Homo sapiens: one gene and its partner. The protein of the gene in region 2 purifies or fractionates together with the protein of the main gene of each other region. This does not show direct contact. Each region holds a gene or a part of one and is shown on either strand. Other genes may lie near its edges. The genes, in order: SEPTIN2 and ITGA3.

What was found.
Region 1: the proteins of ITGA3 (region 2) and SEPTIN2 fractionate together in Homo sapiens (co-fractionation; one large-scale study listed by BioGRID). This does not show direct contact.

What each region holds. Positions count from the first base shown.
Region 1 is NC_000002.12:241,350,136-241,354,155, reverse strand, and holds the end of SEPTIN2 (septin-2), read right to left. Parts: coding exon 3,982-4,020; 3' UTR 3,953-3,981; intron 2,214-3,952; exon of another isoform or gene 2,190-2,213; 3' UTR 129-2,189; downstream 1-128.
Region 2 is NC_000017.11:50,062,610-50,066,109, forward strand, and holds part of ITGA3 (integrin alpha-3 preproprotein), read left to right. Parts: intron 1-1,467; coding exon 1,468-1,595; intron 1,596-1,918; coding exon 1,919-1,998; intron 1,999-3,500.

The DNA of each region.
Region 1 (4,020 bases), on a different chromosome or scaffold from region 2:
CTTGTCCAGTACTGACACTATTGATTCAAGTAATTTTTCTTGATTTTATACAAAGATGTTGTCAAGACTTTGAATTTTCCCAGAAAACCTCACAACTTTCCCTTGCAAATAACCAAGAGAAATACTCATTTAATATCTAAACAATAGTGCTTTATTGATAAAAGGTTAGTTTAAATGGATACAAAATTGCTGTGTAAAATAAGTGTTTTCAAAATACATTTCTATAGGTAGAGACTATGTCTTAGTAAAAGAGCAGTTATCTATTATCAAAAGTATCTATTTAGATTTGGGTAGTAAAACCAAAGGGGATCAGAAGTGTAGCAGTGTGGGTCCTCCCTCCCTGCATAGCTGTTACCAGGAGGCAGCGTGCCTGAAGTACTTTCACTCACATATGCGGGGCTTAGTCACTAGCAAACTTGTTTTTCTTTTTTACAGATTTTCCAGCAAAGTTATTAAATGTCAAACTCAAATAATGGACTCCGCATGGATGTACTCTGAAGTCATGGAACACCACTTCTTAGTTACCTTCACACAATAAGCCATAACATATAGCTTTTGGCTGTTCACAATTAAGCAACAGTGAAGGGCAAAGTTAGCAAGAACACCAGATTATTTTCTGTAGCACACCTTCATTAACTATTATTATTTAACTGCCTCATTTTATGTTTTTTCTAGCCCCCACAAAAATGAAAAAACCCTGTCTCATCCTCAGATTAAGCATTTTCTCCATCTCCCTACACAACCATTGTCTCCTTTCATCTGTCAATTTCTGGGGTTGAATTTCCCAACTTCAGTAGAAATGATAAAAAAGGCAACCGCTGGAGTGTACCATAAGGAGACACAAGAAGAAAGGTGACACTAAGGCTACAGTGCACAGAAAACAGACCAGGTGTGGCTTCGACTGTGCGGACCTGCCCACTAGCCTATGCTACAGATTTGAAATGTCTTTCACTTTGACATGACACACGGTTTATATTACACAAAATGAATGAAACGACAATGGCTAAAAATAAATGAGACAGCCTGCACACAAAAAGATGATGACTGCTACTTTCCTCCCATCAGAAAATTACTCAAAAAGGGAGTATTTAAAGGAAACTCAAATCAGGAGAACCCGGTAGGCATCAGAGGTTCAGGGCACCAAGGCCTTAGGGCGGGAACACTTTTCAACCCAAGCCAGGCTTCAGGGGCACGCCCACCAACAGACCCCAATTTCCACAGGGGAGGCAGATCTTCTATACCTACAGTGACAGAAAATACACTAAAGTGCAGTATAAAATATAAAAAGGTTTGATTCTGAATAGACCAACTGCTAATTTTCCTTAAAAAAATTTTTAATTTGGTTGAGTAAAAACCAAATTAGTTCACTGAATCTCATTTTGTAGGTAAGAGTCTTATTTGCAATACGAAAACTGGAGCTTATGACTGCTTTGATTTTCTCTGTAGCACAGGATAACCAGTATTAGTGGAGAACACTACAAAAGGTGGCTTGTGGTGAGTTCTTTGCATAGTGGTTTTAAAAACAACCTAGCATCAGAATTAAGAGACTTCTTTAAAACTCACCTCTAAAAAAGCTGTTTAAGTATAAAGATATATCTCATTAGGAAATTCTATTATGTTTTATTTGGTTAACAGATAAAATCGCAGACGAATCAACAGTATAGAATTATAGCAGCAAAACTGGTTTTAGGTGTTGTGTACAAACATAAAAGCAAGGAAGCAAAGATCTCCAAGTGGTGTGATGTGGTAAGCAGATGGCCTTGCACCAAGTCAGTGTATCTTTCTACATCACTAGGCACACACCTCTACCACTAAGGAACATTATGGTAAATCTGAATGTTCTAGATAAAAATCAGGAGTGCTCATCAATGGTTAGTCAGTTGTTAAGTCAGTTAAATCAAAGAAATTCAGTATTAAGTATACATGCCGATTCTTGGAAATCAATTCTAACATTAGTGGTTAGGGAGAAAGAAAAGGAAGACATTCACCTCACAAAACACAGAGTGTGACACAGCAATGAAATACATACGTTAAAAGTACTTCATACAAAAACACATCAAAGTCTTTTAAAAATTAAATTCTCAGGCACAGGTACTGTTAAAATGTGGATGGCACCCTCCCAAGGATTGAAAACACACAGCTGGATCATGCATCTGGAATGTTTTCTTTTTTATCCAGGAAAGTGTTTTCTAGAAAAAAGAAAACAAAACACACTTAAGTGGGAGTGAGGCAATGTCTGCTGCGTTAATTATTAACAGTTCTACTTTTCTCCTTAACAAAGGTCATAAACTGAGCAAAAGGCAGGGCTTACATGACCACAAAGTTAACTAAACCAAAAAGCCATTCATGAGGCTCCTGGAAACTGGAAATGCTGCAAAACTAGAAAGTATACAGAAATAAAATTTTATCGATCTAAAAGTAAAATTTTCATTCCATAAAGGTTGAAAATGAAGCTCAGAGAAAATAAGCAAACACCTGTCACTGCTTCCTGCTTCAAATGAGCTGCATCGCTGAGGCATCCTTGTCTCTTTCCACTGTACCCTCACTTCCCCAGTCACATGCCATTAACTGGTTATGCAGGACCAGCCTCTAGAGTCAGCAGGCCATCGTTTAAAAGTCATGGCACCATCAGCAAATACTTTTAAACTCTCGGAGCGGCAACAATTTCCTCATCAGTAAAGTGTGAACTAAGCACATACCCTCAGGACTATTCTAAGGTGTCACTGTGATGATGAAACTAAAGCAACCAACTTGGACTCAGTTGGGGGTGACATGGATGTTTTCCTTACAGTAACTTATTAAACTGTACATACGTATTTTTGTGCATTTTGTGTAAATACCGTATTTTACAATGAACACCTTTCCCACTAAGCTGCAAGAGCGTTTGGTGACTAAGGCTCCAGCAAGTCACTCTGGGTCCTTCCTCAGCCACCTGTCCACATGCTGTGGAGGCCTCAAGACTCCCTGCCTTCTGCCTAACCCACCCTGCCGTATGTCGTTGAAGGCTCAAGTCCCCTCCCTGTTTTCATGAACACACTCATGCTTCCAGAATGAGGTCCCTGAATTGTAGTAGAGACCTTCTACCAAATTCCCAGCGTTTCATCCTCAGATCTTGGCCAACTCAAACTCTCTTTCAAGCTCTAATCAGATCTCTTGTATGAGGTTTGTTTGCCTTTACCCCAGCTCCATGTGACCTACCCTCTTCTTTGGACTCTTAGGTCATTACTTAACTTTACCTTTCATGCTTTTCCTCTGGCAAGTGATGGGAGTGGCCACCTGGACAGTTCAGAGAGCCTGCCTGTCCATAAGATACATAAGATACAGGGGAGTGGGCATCTGCCTTTTCCTGGTCCTGAGTCTCTGGAGTCTGCAGATTCTTTTCAAGCAGGCAGACCAGCATACACCATGCCAGACAGATCTATTCACTAATGACCATCAGTCGGGACAAAGCTATCTGAGGAACAGGAGGTCAGCAGTCACCATCCAGGGAACCCTTATCTACCTCACATAATTCTTCTTCCTTGTGCCATCTCTACTTTTAATCTGTACAAGCTGTTTTAATAACACGTTTTTATTCCCTTTAAAGAGATGTTTTAACAATTAACAAATTTCCAATAATACAACTAATAAAAGTGCTTTAATACATAATTTCCTTCTAATGTTGGTATTTGCAAGCTTAGAAAATAACCTGCAAATGTACCCCAATAAAATAAAAGTTGAAATTATTTAAAAAAAAAAGAAGAGACAAAAATATGAAAAATCTTTACTAGAAAGTAGGTGGCAAAGTAGTGGCTTCTGTTTTTCAGGAGCAATCTCTCCTTGTTTAAGATTAGTGATGGAGTTACTTCAAAATGCAAAATATTAATGAGGCTTAAGGAGGAACCTGTCATATTTAAGCTGACACAATGTTAGTAACTGCCTGTCTTCCAGGCTAAGGGACAACAGGGCCTACCTCTGACTTCTTGATATGTGCACATCACCTTACACGTGGTGCCCGAGAGCCCCGCCATCGCCATCCCC
Region 2 (3,500 bases):
ACCCGCAGGCAGTACATTCCTGACTCCCAGTGGGTGGAGATACCCCAGGCCCTGGCATGCCCAGGCCCTGCACTGCCCTGCCCTGCCCAGCCCACTCCCTGTAGCCCACACTCACAGGTCCCAGGCAGAAGCTACAGGCGTGGCTGTTGCTTGGCACTTCCAGACTGGCAGGAGGCCCAGAGCCCAAGTTCTGAGCTGGGAGCTGTAGAGTGATAGAGTTGCTGGGGCCAAATGGTGGGGCACCTGGGAGGTGCCTGCCACCCGAGAAGGCCAGGGCCATCAGGATTGAGCAGGGGCTCCTGGCAGAACATTTAGAGGCTGCAGGGAGGTGATGTGGGGAGAAAATCTGCTAAAACTGAGTTCTCAAACTGGGGTGCACCAGATTCCACCAGATGGTGTGTTGTGGGCAGAGGAATCTACCTTTTTAACAAAGATCCCCGGGGTTTCTGATGGCCCAAGGCTTGTCCTCTAAGATGGCATTTCAGGGCCAACCCCTGCCTCTTTCTGCTCCAGCCACCCCTCTGGTATGGGACGGGTTGCCAGGGTCCTAAGCATCCTTGCAGGAACTTGCTGTCTGCATCCCCAAAGATGGATTCTGGGCAGGCTGGGAGCAAGGCAAGAGCCCTTTCCCTCCCCACCTGCTGCCCACCCACTGGGAACTCTGCTCTGGGGCCACATTGTCCAAAGTGTCAGGTACTTATCCCAACCCCTACCTGTGTGCCTGTCTTAAGGTAACTGGGGAAGGATGTTGGACATCACCCAGGTCGCTTAGGGGCCCAGGTCTCCAAGATCTGAGTCTCCACATGGCTTCAGGAGGAAAAACCCAGCGTTCTGACAACCCAGTCCCCTAAGTTCTCCCCTCTGAACCCCCAGAATTTGAACTCTCTGCCAGGATTCCTCATCTTGCTCTCTTCTGGTCTACCTTCATCTCAAAGGCCAAAGCATTCCTTCCAAAACTGAGATCTGGCCATGTCATGCCCCTGCCTAAAATCCCTCTGTGGTTCCCCTAAGGACCTTCCCAGCCTGCCTTTGTGTGCCTCCCCAGAGGCTCCTGGACTCCAGCTATGCTGAGGGCCTTGCAGGTCTCTGATTCACCCTGCTGGCTCTTGCTTCCTGGCCCTGCACATGTGTGCCTTTGCCCAAGTGCTCTTCCTCCCCTTCTTCACCTGGAGAACCCTGGTGATTGTCCTCAGACTCAGATTAGGTCACCTCTTCTGCTGGCCTCCATCACTGCCCCCTCAGCCCTGAGCCTGGGCTACTGTGCTCCCTGCTTCCCACTCCCGGGGCACTTCCTTCTAGTGTCTTTTTTCCTTGCCTGCCTTACCCTACACTGGGCACTTCTGGAGGGCAGGAGCTGGGGGTCTCCTGGCACCAAGAATCTGTAAATGTATGTTGAATAAATAACAAGTTGTTCCAAGTGGGGCTTGGGGAGTCTGAACCCGGACCCACCTCCGTCCCTATCCCCAGGCTCCTGGCTGGTGCCCCCCGGGAGCTCGCTGTGCCCGATGGCTACACCAACCGGACTGGTGCTGTGTACCTGTGCCCACTCACTGCCCACAAGGATGACTGTGAGCGGATGAACATCACAGTGAAAAGTGAGGGGAAGGGGCTGGGGAGGGGTGCTGGGTCAGAGGTCTGGCAGGGGGGTACCGCAGAGAGAATGGCCTGGAGGAGATAGAAGGCTTGTTCACACGGCTTCTAGTCGCTTCTTGTCCAGCTGGGAAGAGGGTGCCCTAGAGGAGAGTGGGGCTGGATGGGATTGGTAGAGCTCAGAATAATGACGAGCTGGAGAAGGGGAGTTGGGAGGGCTGCCCTGTGGGTGGAGGGCCCAAGCGGGACCCACTCCTGCCCTCTGGAGACTTTGGGCACTGAAGTATGGGTGAGGTGCTCTGATTCATGATCCTTCCGGTGCCCACAGATGACCCTGGCCATCACATTATTGAGGACATGTGGCTTGGAGTGACTGTGGCCAGCCAGGGCCCTGCAGGCAGAGTTCTGGTAAGTGGGTGCTCAGTGTTGGCTCCTCCACCTCTACCCGGCTCTCCCCTCATCTCCAGAGCTGGGAGGAAAGAAGAGGGCAGCAGGGGGGTCCACGGCGCGTGTGTGCTGGGGCCTGCACACATGTCCCTTCCTGTGGCTGTGTGTCCCTCGCTCTCTGCACTCCTGGGGAGGGGGTGAGTATCCTGTGCTCTCCCAAACCCCCGCACGGCCTGAGTTCTCTGACTCATCCACTTCCTCCGCATGCCTACACTGGGTGCTCAGCCTTCGTGGGAACAAGCCGAGGGAGCCGAGGGAACTGCAAGGAGGAGAAAGGGCAGAGAGGGCCCCAGGCAGCTCAGCGCTGGCTGGCGCTCCTTCCTGGGAGGCTGACTGCCGGAAGAGGCCCAGCCCTGCTGACCCCGGCTCACCCAGCTCTGGTCTGGGGGCTAATCAAATGTGTCACCTCCTGCCCACATTCTATAGTGGCAGCCCCTGAGTTCTCCATTTCTGGGTCCCAGATAGACATTTCCCCCCGCATTTTTTTCTCTCTCTGTCTCTTGTTGTTGTTGTTATATTCCAAAAAGGATTTTGATTTTATTGCTTCACACACAGAAGAGTTCTGGTTAAGGCTTGCCTTGCTCCTGGTGCTCATATGATGCCACCAGGATGTGATTTATCTCAAGCACTTAACTCTGTGTTCTTCGTGTTGCCTCCATTCTTTGATAGGCATTCTTTTCGTAGTGCCAAGATGAATGCAACAGCTTCAGCTTTATCTTCTTTGACCTTCAAGTTCTATAGTCCCAGTAGATATCTGACTACAACTCATTAGCTCTGACTATTTCAGGTACTCCTCTCTGAAACAATTACTGTGACCAAGAGAATGCAATACTTATACTTTCTTCAGACATGAATTATCAGTATCCAGATAGGCACATAAACTCAGTCTTAGAATGTGTTGCTTTGATGTCAGGTTTTTCTCTTGCCTTGATAGTTCCACATGGCTGGGGAAGCCTCACAATCACGGTGGAAGGCAAGGAGGAGCAAGTCCCATCTTACGCTGATGGCAGCAGGCAAAGAGAGAATGAGGCTGTCTCTCTCTCTCTCTCTCTCTCTTTTCTTTTCTTTCTCTTCTTTCTTCTTTCTTTCAAGATAGAAGACTCCCAGCTGGGTGTGGTGGTTCACGCCTGTAATCCCAGCACTTTGGGAGGCCGAGGCCGGTGGATCATGAGGTCAGAAGTTCGAGACCAGCCTGGCCAATATGGTGAAACCCTGTCTCTACTAAAAATATAAAAAATAAGCCGGGTGCAGTGGTGCCCGTCTGTTGTCCCAGTTACTTGGGAGGCTGAGGCAGGAGAATCGCTTGAACCTGGGAGGTGGAGGTTGCAGTGAGCCAAGATCACACCACTGCATTCCAGCCTGGGTGACAGAGCGAGACTCCATCTCAAAAAAAAAAAAAAAAAAAAAAGACTCCATCTCTCAACCAGGCTGGAGTATAGTGGTGCCATCTCAGCTCACTGCAG